Linked DNA regions of Homo sapiens. The protein of the gene in region 1 purifies or fractionates together with the protein of each later gene. This does not show direct contact. Each region holds a gene or a part of one and is shown in the gene's direction. Other genes may lie near its edges.

The links.
Region 2: the proteins of RAI1 (region 1) and CAMSAP3 purify together in Homo sapiens (affinity purification with mass spectrometry, with the first as the bait; one large-scale study listed by BioGRID). This does not show direct contact.
Region 3: the proteins of RAI1 (region 1) and SCAI purify together in Homo sapiens (affinity purification with mass spectrometry, with the first as the bait; one large-scale study listed by BioGRID). This does not show direct contact.

The regions. Positions count from the first base shown.
Region 1 is NC_000017.11:17,684,525-17,687,993, forward strand, and holds part of RAI1 (retinoic acid-induced protein 1), read left to right. Parts: exon of another isoform or gene 1-1,664; intron 1,665-3,469. UniProt on the Homo sapiens protein: Transcriptional regulator of the circadian clock components: CLOCK, BMAL1, BMAL2, PER1/3, CRY1/2, NR1D1/2 and RORA/C. Positively regulates the transcriptional activity of CLOCK a core component of the circadian clock.
Region 2 is NC_000019.10:7,605,780-7,609,425, forward strand, and holds part of CAMSAP3 (calmodulin-regulated spectrin-associated protein 3), read left to right. Parts: intron 1-491; coding exon 492-614; intron 615-696; coding exon 697-792; intron 793-997; coding exon of another isoform or gene 998-1,030; intron 1,031-2,041; coding exon of another isoform or gene 2,042-2,089; intron 2,090-2,346; coding exon 2,347-2,485; intron 2,486-3,646. UniProt on the Homo sapiens protein: Key microtubule-organizing protein that specifically binds the minus-end of non-centrosomal microtubules and regulates their dynamics and organization.
Region 3 is NC_000009.12:125,141,424-125,145,169, reverse strand, and holds the start of SCAI (protein SCAI), read left to right. Parts: upstream 1-1,641; 5' UTR 1,642-1,732; coding exon 1,733-1,785; intron 1,786-2,492; coding exon 2,493-2,537; intron 2,538-3,746. UniProt on the Homo sapiens protein: Tumor suppressor which functions to suppress MRTFA-induced SRF transcriptional activity. May function in the RHOA-DIAPH1 signal transduction pathway and regulate cell migration through transcriptional regulation of ITGB1.

The DNA.
Region 1 (3,469 bases):
GTAACACTTGGATACTTGGGTGAAAAATGCAAATAAGCCAGAAATATATGTAGTAAAAGTAAAAGTTCCCTTGGCACCCTCCCTGCAGGTAACCCCAGTTAATAGTTTGAACGTATCCTTCCAGACTTTTTGTTACTCACTTAATGCATATATATATATATATATATATATATATATATATATGTATGTATGTATGTATATTACATATACCAATCCATGCATAGTTTTCTTTTTCCCCAAGTGAGGACATACTGTGGGCTCTTCCTCGGCAGCTTCCTTTTTCCTCTCCGTTTGTCTTGGAGAGGTTGGTTGTGTGGCGAAGTCCTTCAGGGCAAGTTCTGGGTTGACTCCTGGCTCCACCACATACTGAACAGGCCATTTACCTCTCTGTGCCTCAGTGTCCCCATCTTTACAATCAGGAGAATAACAGTACAGACCTCACGGTACTGAAGTAAAGATGCAGTGAGTTAATCCATATGAAGTTTAGAGCAGTGCTTTTGCCAATAAATGCTGATTGCTGCCGTCATTGTTGTATTGTTATTGCTGTTCTATCTCCATGGCAGCCCATGTTTGAAATGCATTGCTTTCCACAGCTGCCTGTGGCCATGGCATGGGTGTCTTTTTCCTCCCCTATCCAACGTGTGGCTCCACAGGGAGGGAGGAGGTGCAACAGCAACGGTGTGCGCAGAGCAGCGTCTCTGCGGGAGAGGCACCTGGGCACTGGGCCCAAGGGAACAGGGATTTTCCAAGGACCCACTGTTTCCAAAGTTCTGTGCTTAATGTCGGGGTCCAAGCAGGAAGCATCCCTGCACTTGACCACAAGAAGGTCACAGCCCAGTGGGTGATTGGGACCCAGCTCATAGCCAAGGCCTCGACCAGAGCTGGAGGCTTCCTGGAGGAGGGGCCTTTGAGCAGGTGCTTCAGGCACGGCGAGGTAAGAGTGAGAGGAGCATTCCTGGCAGAGGGAACACAGTGAGCAGAGCGAGTCTTTGGAAGCTGGAAGGGATGTGGCCTGTGTGCTGTAGCCAAACAAGAGGGGAGGACTTGGCTCAGAAAGAATGGTGGCGGAAGAGGTTGGGCTGTTGCTGGGACCTCCTCACTGGCCTCCCTGCCTCCATCCTGTCCCCTCCCAGGTGCTGGCCAGCAGCACTGTCAGAGCGATCGTTCTAAACCCAGCAGATAACCTCCAGTGGCTCCTGCTGCCTTATGAATAAAGGTCCCATCTGTAGTTCTTCCCATGCTGTCCAGGGCCATTTCTGGTGTCCTCTGCCTGCCCTGTCCTCATTCAGTCCTGTCCCCTCCAGCCACAGCTGGCACCTCCTTGTTAAGGTGCAGCCATGTGCATCCTTGCCTCTGTGCATCGGGCTGGGCTGTTCCTTCCACCTGGGATGCCCCTCACCTTCCTCCCTGCCGCCCCAGACCAAAACAGACGTCCTGTCTCCTCCTCCTCTGACCTCCGAGGCAGAATGAGTCATCTCCCTTTGTCTATACTCGTGGCATAGCGTTTATCACGGAATTATCGGCAATTCTGCCAGTGTCTGTCCTCCCCATGAGGCTGAAGCATCGAGGCCTGAAAGCACGTCTCCTTGCTCTCTCCGGCCCAGTGCCAAGGGCGAGGCCTAGAACACAGGACGCTCAGAAATGCTTCCTGGCAGGAGGGCCAGGTGAGGTGGAGAGGGTGAGAGCCCCAACATTGTCTCCCGTGGGCCCCTTTGATCTTTAGCAAGGGCATGCTCAGGTCTGTGTGGATCTTGTGCTGTCAGCCTTTAGATGAGTGGGGTGAGGGGCTTGGTGGGGTCGGGGGGCAGGGGGAGGTGGCGGGCAGCTTCCCCAGGCTGCTTCCTGAGGGGGCTGGGAGAAACTGGCTCATCCTGTTCCCCAGTGATTGAGGCAGAGCTGTGCCCTGTTCCTGGTGGGTCACTGGGGATCTGAGATTGGAATGTGACACCAGGGAAGGGGAGGCAGGGTGGGAGGCAGGGCTTGGAGGTACAGGCTGGGGCTTGGCTGGCAAAGGACAGATTTCGCTCCACTGGTTCTTGAACCCGTGTGTGTGTGTGTGTGTGTGTGTGTGTGTGTGTGTGTGTGCACGCGCGCGCCGGGGAGGGGAGAGATGGGGAAGAGAAAAACATGAGGGCAGAGAGGTGGAGTGGGGGTGGAGGACCTGGGGAGTGGTGAGCAGGGACAGGGAGAGATGGAAGTGGGGGGACGGCAAGGAGTGAGGGAGAAGTTCCTGCTGCTGCTGCTGGAGAGTATGAAGAGTGTGCTTAGGGCCAGGAAGGAAAGCAGCCAGGCGCATCGTCTCACACCACCATCAGCCATGCCTTCCTTCGTCTGTCCAGCAGACAACCCTAAGTGTTCTCTTGCTTGGCTCCATGCTTGCATGGCCCCAGACAGGAGCAAGCCTGTGGTCCAGGCTTCGCACCCTTGAAGTCTAGGGGCCAGGTGAACAATGAGCATCCGGTTTCTTTCTTTTTTTTGAGATGGAGTCTTGCTCTGTCGCCCAGGCTGGAGTGCAATGGTGCGATCTCAGCTCACTGCAACCTCTGCCTCCCGGGTTCAAGCAATTCTCTGGCTCAGCCTCCCAAGTAGCTGGGATTACAGGCGCCCACCACCACGCCCGGCTAGTTGAGCAACCTCTTTCTGCACAAAGTGATCAGGCTGGGGGAGAGAAGGTGCCCAGAATGCTGTGCAGAGGCAGGAGAGGAGGGTGGAGCAGGCGAGCATGGGGTAGGGGGCAGGGAAGCCATGTGTTAGGCACTATGGTGGGGAGCCAGGACTGCTGGGGAGTCTTCCTTTCCTCTCTGGCCTCGGTCTCATCTGTAAATGGGGGAAGAGTGGACTGCTCTTGCACTGATGGTCTGTGGACCCAAGTCACCCACTCCTTGGGCATGAGAAACCAGGGACCCCGTGGAGACAGCTGATAGAACAGGGACAGCAGGCATGCTCAGAGCGTCTGCAGGCCCATGGTCAGGGGGCTTGAGGGAGAACATGCAGAATCCAGTGGAGCTTGGGTTCGCCTCCTAGAGTTCCCTTCTTGGAGACTGTGCTCATCTGGAAGGCGAGATAGGGTCGGGGTAGGGGAAGGAGCACTGGATTCGGAATCAGGAAAAGTGGTTGAGTTTTAACTGCAGCATCCCTCGGGCAAGTCACTTTCCCTCTGTGAGGGTCAGTTTCCTCTTCTGTCAAAAATGTGAACGGGCTTTGTTGTAAGCATTAAAGGTGAGCTGGGGCGCCGTGGCTCACGCTTGTAATCCCAGCACTTTGGGAGGCCGAGGCAGGCGGATCACTTGAGGTCAGGAGTTTGAGACTAGCCTGACCAACATGGCAAAACCCCATCTCCACTAAAAATACAAAAATTAGCCAGGTGTGGTGGCCCATGCCTGTAATTCCAGCTACTTGGGAGGCTGAGGCACGAGAATCACTTGAACCCAGGAAATGGAGGTTGCAGCGAGCCAAGATAGCACCACTG
Region 2 (3,646 bases), on another chromosome or scaffold:
TATGTCCATCAAACCTAGCTCCTCCTATCATCAGTCTTGGCTCTGTCCCTTAAGCTCTGTCCATCAAACCTAGCTCCTCCCACCAGTCCAGGCTCCTCCCCTCAAGCTCTGTTCATTAAGCCTAGCTCTTCCCCCCAGCCCTGGCTCCTCCCCTCAAGCTCTTCCCATCAAGCCTGGCCCCTCCCATCAAACCCAGCTCCCCAAAAAGGCGCTACTCTGGCCCTTGAGGATTTGTGTACACAGCCCACCCTATCCTAACGCCTAGCATCTGACCTCAAAGTCCCACCCATCGTGCGTGGCTTTTCCGGGACCCCATTTCTTGTTCCTTCCCTTAAGGCCCCACCCATGAACCACTGGCCCCGCCCCCTCAAGCCCCACCCCCCCCGTCAAGTCCCTCCCATCTGCAGGTTCTTCCTTTTCCCAGGCCCTTGGGGGCCGAGGTGCGCCTCCTGCAGCTCTCAGGTCTCACCCTCTAGCGCTTGCCCCCACAGGGAGCCCACCTAGCTGTCATTGATGCCCTCATGGCTGCCTTTGCCTTCGAGTGGACAAAGACCCTGCCAGGTCCCTTGGCCCTGACCAGCTTGGAGCACAAGCTGCTTTTCTGGGTGGACACGGTAGGTGGGGTTGGGCCTGGGGTGGGTTCGGGGACCAGCATCGTCCAGTGGCCAGACCACTGACCCCCTCCCTGCCCTCCAGACCGTCCGGCGGCTGCAGGAGAAGACCGAGCAGGAAGCGGCCCAGCGAGCCTCTCCAGCAGCCCCTGCAGACGGGGCGGCCCCGGCGCAGCCCTCGGTGAGGCCAGGGCATAGAACCGTCAGAAGGATGGGGGACCGGAGATCTGGGAGGGCAGGGCTGTGCTTCCTGGACACTCCTGAAGTGGGGAGGGGGCTAGAGGTGACACACTCTCTCTTTCTTCCCCCCTCTCTCAATCTCTCTGTGCCCTGCCCGTCCCCTGTGCCGGTACCCGCTGCCCTCCTCTCTGCCTCTCTGGCCTCAGTGCCCTACGCGCTGGTACTGGAAGCTGGTTCCTGTAAGTGGGGCTGTCTGTCCGCCCCGTCTGCCTGCCCTGCTTGTAGCTCTGTCTGTCTGTATGTCTGTTTCTGCCTGCCTGTCTGCGCGCCCTCTCATACCTCCCCAAGCTGTGAGCAAAGGAGGTTGGACCCCAGTCCTGGGAGACAGGGAGAACCCCTCTGTGAACCAAGAGAAGGGTAGAATCTCGGCCATTAACTGAGAGGGCAGACCCCTCCCCCAGCGAACTGATGGGTGGGGACGAACTTCCCCTCCCGTTATTCAGAAGGGCAAGCCCTCCCCGTTCCCATTAATGAAGAGGGTGGGACCCCCTGAACCTGTCCCCCTTAGCCGAGGTGGGGAGACCACATAAATTTCTGAAGGGGGGACCTGCAGCCCATCACAAACGTGGATCCTGACCCTAGCAGGCAGGGCACCCTCTGGCCAAGGGGAAGACCCTCCAATGCAGAAGAAGATAGAATAACTTTCCTAACTGAGACCCCCAGCTTCCCTAGAGAAAAATCCCAGCTTTGAAAAGGAGGAGGAGGCCCATCCCTGAAGCTGGAAGTTGAAATTTCTCTCTTCCCTGAATGAGCTGTGTGACCTTGCAGAAGTATCTAAACCTCTCTGTGCTTCATATAAATTACTCCCATAGTAGATAAACAAGGAGGAAGTGGGGGAGGTTTTGGGCTGGCTGGCGTCCCCACCTTTGCTCACTCCTTCCCCCACCCTGGGGCCTGGGTTGGGAGGTTCCCTTCCTGCCTACCCGCTTCCTCTGCATCCTCTCCCCAAGCTGGGGGCCTGGGTCTTTTGTGGGAGGAGGATTCCCCGCATAAGAGGGGGTTCCTACTCTGTGGGGTCCCTTGGGGCTGGGAGGAGCTGGGGTTCGCGAAGCCGGCCAGAGCAGTCAGGGAGCTGGACGGCCGGGGCTCAGGACCAGGGTCAGGGCTACCCCCTCCCCCCCAAGGTGGGCTTGGGGGCCCAGCAGGTCAGCACCCCTCCCCCTTGCTGATGGCTGCTCCTCTCCCCCCAGCACGCAATTGCCTTCTGTTTGAAGGAGTCGGGGAGCAAACCCCCCATGGTAATGTATCCCCCGCCCCGGGGTCCCAGGAGTCCCTGTCCCCAGCCCCCGCTGCTGGCCTGGCTGCTCGAAGACATCTCCTCTGCCTCTTGCTGCTGCCCCTCCCCTGCTCCAGGCTGGCCCCCCAACTCTGTCTCTGGGACCCCCAGCTTCCCGCCCCCTCATGGCGGAAACCCCAGGCCTCCCTGCCCAGCCTGCATGACCGCTGACCCTGGGGGCCAGCCTGGCCACTCACCTGACCTGGCTCCCATCTGCAGATCCGATACCGCAAGGACCGTGTGGTGGCGCGACGTGCCCCCTGCTTCCCGACGGTGACCAGCCTCCAGGACCTGGCCAGTGGGGCCGCGCTGGCCGCCACCATCCACTGCTATTGTCCCCAGCTGCTTCGACTTGAGGGTGAGTAAATGGATGTGGAACAGATCTTGTGCCGGGGAGCTGGGCATCCTAAGTCCCAGCCCCTAGACCCTCCATCCCCAGGTCCGCGAGACCAGCAACGATGCAGTGGTCATGAGGGCAGCTTCCGGAACTGGCAGGCCTGAGTTTGTGTCTCTCTCTTCCCCAATGAGCTTTGTGACCTCACACAAGTATATAAACCTCTCTGTGCTTCCAGGAGTTCATTCCTGCAGCAGATGAAACGTATGGAGTGTGGACTGTGTGCCAGACCTTGTTTTAGGCACTGGGGATCCAGCCAGAATAGAGACACACTCCCCACTTCACAGACGGCTCTAGCTGGGAGAGAAAGATACTAAGTTTATCCAAAAGTACTTTTTTTTTTTTTTTTTTGAGACGGGAGTCTTGCTCTGTTGCCCAGGCTGGAGTGTAATGGCATGATCTCGGCTCACTGCAACCTCCACCTCCCAGGTTCAAGCCATTCTCCTGCCTCAGCCTCCTGAGTAGCTGGGACTACAGCCACACGCCACCACGCCTGGCTAATTTTTGTATTTTTAGTAGAGACGGGTTTCACCGTGTTGGCCAGGCTGGTGTCGAATTCCTGACCTCAAGTGATCTGCCTACCTTGGCCTCCCTAAGTGCTGGGATTGCAAGTGTGAACCACTGCACCCGGCCCAGAAGTACTTTTTGCATACTGGGTAGTCCTAAAGGCAATGGGTGGTCAGAAAAAGCTTTTTTTAAAAAAACTCTTTTTTCTTTTTTATTAAAAAAAAAATTATAGGGCTGGGTGTGGTGGCTCACGCCTGTAATCCCAGCAGTTTGGGAGGCCGAGGCGGGTGGATCACGAGGTCACGAGTTCAAGACCAGCCTGGCCAGGATGGTGAAACCGTCTCTACTAAAAATACAGAAATTAGCCGGGTGCGGTGGCGGGCGCCTGTAATCCCAGCTACACAGGAGGCTGAGGCAGGAGAATCGCTTGAACCCAGGAAGTGGAGGTTGCAGTGAGTCAAGACCATGCCATTGCACTCTAGCCTGGGCAACAGAGCGAGACTCCATCTCAAAAAAAAAAAAAAAAAAGTATAAAATAGAGATGGGGTCTTGCTATGTTGCCCAAGCTGGTCTTGAATCCCTGGGCTCAAACATCCTCCCACCTCAGCCTCCCCAAGT
Region 3 (3,746 bases), on another chromosome or scaffold:
TGAAGACTCGAGGATCCTTTTTGGGAAGGCGTAAGAAATGAATAGGTCCTGTTTTATTGACAATATCTGCCATATATCAGTGAGGATTGGTCAATTATGGAAGATGCTAAAAAGCAGGCAATGGATTTTTAATAAGGAATATAATAAATGTATTTCAAGATTACTTCCCTAGTGAGTTGATGATCCCCCTTCGTCTGACACAAATTATTCTCGAGTTCTTTCCTCTCTCTGGCTTGATAATATGGGTGGAAACTGTTAGTTGAGATTGAGGTGATTTGTGGTTCTGTGACTTTAGGATTACGTGAAATACTAATTTGGGGGACCAACAGAGATTTGACATTTTTTCAAAGCAATTTTTCAATTCCTACTACAATTTACCGTCAGTATTACTTCATAAATGGAAAGTCATTTTACCATTAAAGATGTAGGTAGGACCATCTCAGAAGAAAAGACAACTCTTTACACCAAATACATTTGGTTTTGTGAAAAACTAGTATCCTAATTTTTGCCGCTTATGGAGATCAATGAGAGATTTTCCCCACCCCAATGTTGACATGTACTACTCGACGCTGTCATATTATTGAGGCATAAAAGATGTTCTAATAAAATGGAAGTGACTTAAGAGAAAGTTTTATGCCTCCTCCCAACTCTGAACAGATGCTGAGAATATACCAAACAAGTTCACACAGGAGTAGAGATTTAGAGAGGCCTTCCCACCTTCAAGAATTTTATAATACGTTAATGAGCTGAGTCTTATTTTCAAGGATGGCTTTGTTAAAGCAGAAGAAGGGTAACTATGCTTATGAAAGGCAGTTTTGCATGCCTGTTTGTCAAAAAATACAGTACAATTTATTTTAAAATTGATTAATTGGTGTAGAACTTGCAATGGTCACACAATCAGGATGGTCAGCTTCCATTCAGGGATCAAATTTGTCCAGGCCTTTCAAAATGGAACACGTTGCTTTTAGTATGGCATTGGTTCTGTTTGTAGTGCTGATTTTTCTTTCATGGTAATTAAAAAAAAATCTTACTTTCTTAAAAGCCTGCACCCAAGCTAGTGAGCTTTTCTGCAGAGGATTGAGCATCCAAACCATGCTTTATTTTGGTGGATTCTTAGAGTTTTCTGGCTGGGTCCTTTTTGAGGGGTAGCTGTGAGCTGTGAGACAATTTCAGCAAGATGTAGGGACAAGGATCGCATTCGAGGTGGCTTAAAAGGAAACACGTTTGTGAGAGTTGCCTCACTGTCTCACCTGCTAGAAGAAATTGGGAGATTTCAGGGCTTGTTTTCGGTCCTGGCGTGGTGCAGAGGTGGAGGGGCGCCAGCAGGTGTGTGGTATGCAGGACGCAGAGCCAGGAGAACCTGGGGCAGGTGTCTGGAGCCGGGGGTGCAGTTCCTACTTTTAGACGCATGGTGGCGCTAGGGTCTCCTCCGGCCCTGCTAGCAATCTCTAAGGCACCTCCGCCGCCACCTGCAGTCTCAACCAAACCTCTGGGTGGGCAGCGCGGGATGTGACGGGCCGAGCGTCCAATCGACTGACAGATTTCCGTCCACACTACTGCTCTAGCCAATGGGAGCCGAGGAGAGGCGCGGAGGAGGCGGGCCCCGCGGCAAGCCTGGCAGAGGCGCGAGGCCCTCCTCCCGCCTCTCCGCCTACTCCAGCCTCCGCCGCCTCAGCTTCCCGAGCGAGCCCTGCGGCCGCCGGAGCAGCTCCCGCGGCGGAGCAGGAGCCGGATGGTCAGAGGAGCCCGGCAGCCCCAGCAGCCGCGGAGTCGCCTGGCCCCCAGGTGCGGGGGCTGGGTGGAGGCCGGGGTTGGGGATGGGGTGGGGGCCAGGGAGCGGGCCCAGGGGCAGCGGCTCGGGGCGGTGGAGCATTCGGGGCGCAGAGACCGGAGGGGCGGGGGGTGCAGGCTGGGGGGACCTTGGGGGCGCCTGCAGGCGGCGGCGCGGGCTGGGCGCGATCGCCTCCTCGAGGCCAGGTGAGAGGGGCGTGTGAGGGAAGGGGCGCCGAGGGGTGAGGCTGGCGGCGCGGGGCCGGGAGGGGCAAGGCGGGCGCGCCCCCGGAGGGGCCGTGGAATGCGGGGGTCGCCGGGCCCGGAGAGGCGGGGCGTGGAGGGGGCAGTGCACGGTCGGGAACGGGTGGGCACAGGAAAGGGGAGGCTAGGGGGGCTTGCGGGGGTGACGAGGCAGACAATGAGTAGGTGGAGGTGGGTGATTTTGGGGAGCTGGGCTGTGACGAGCAGGGGTCGAGGATGGGGTGAGGGACCAGGAAGGTTTGAGCTCAGGGGGAATTGGGGGAACGGTGAGTCCCAGGAATGCTAGGTCTTGGTAAATAGGGGAAACAGGGCATGAGGCGTTTGTAAGGTCAGATCTGGGCTTGGCGAGCCTGTGGTCCCAGAGGGTGGTCTATTTAGTTCTTGACTGGCACGGTAGCGCCGGGAGATGTTTTCTTGTATGTTACTTTTAGTTACCGTCTTATTTGTTTGGTCTGCAGACTGACTGGCACAGTGGAGAAACCGCCTCGAAAACGGAGAAGCAGGTAAGGCAGTGCCTTCCTATTTTGCTTCATGTTTTTCTTTTTGCTTGGCTGCACCTGTGCCGTACTGCATAATTGTATACTGTCAGTAGATGAAGTTTCTTATTTATCCCCCTTTTAAAAGAATATAACCACATGCATGATTTTTCTTTTGAGGACTTCAAATTACTACCTCTACAGTCGATTTTTTTTTTCTTGGTATCTAAGATAATGTGGGAAATCTTGAGAAATCCTACTTTTTTACTTTTTGATGTTGTGTAAGGATCTCAGCTATTTTTTTTTTTAACCTTAGCCATAATTTCATTTTCTCCAGCATCTCTGTTTAAAAAGCTCATCTTGGCTGGGGTGGCTCATGCCTTCAATCCCAGCTCTTTGGGAGGCTGAGGCAGGAGGATCATTTGAGCCTGGGAGTTCAAGACCAGTCTGGGCAACAGAGCAAGACTCCGTCTCTACAAAAAATTGAAAAACTAGCCGGTCCCATAAATATATACACCTACTATGTACCCACAAAAACAAAAAATTAAAAAAACAAAAACCAACTAGCTGAGCGGGTGTTGTGGACCTGTAGTCCCAGCTTCTCAAGAGGCTGAGGTGGGAGGATTGCTTGAGCCCAGGAAGTCAAGGCTGCAGTGATGCAGTGAGCCGTGATCATGCCACTGCACTCCAGTGTGGGGAACACAGCAAGACCCTGCCTCAAAAAATAAACTAATTTTATTGAGCATCTACTATGTGCCAAGTACTGTGTACGAATGCTCTATGTGTATCTTCTCCTGTAATCCTCAAAGAACCCTAAGAGAATATGTAGTGTCACTATTTTACAGAAGAGGGAACTGCGACACAGAGAGGCCAAATATTTACCCAAAATCATGCATCTAGTAAAAGATAAAACCAGGATTTGAATCCAGACAGTCTGACTCCAGAGCTTAAGCTCTTAACTGTTATACCATAATGCTGCTAATAAATATGCAATTGAAAGTAGGTTTTCTTATTGCTTTATCTTTTGTCGTTGGACACTGTGTAGTTAACTCGAATGGTTGAACCTTAGGAAAATAGAAGCAAAGAGTTTAAGTAGTCCACAAACAAAGTGAATTAGTCCTTGAGTAATGGAGATGAAGATATATTTATCACATAAACATTTTTGACTGCATTCCATGTGAGAGGTACTACATAGCAATTCTGTGTAGTCATTAGATGATTCCTTTTTCACAGATG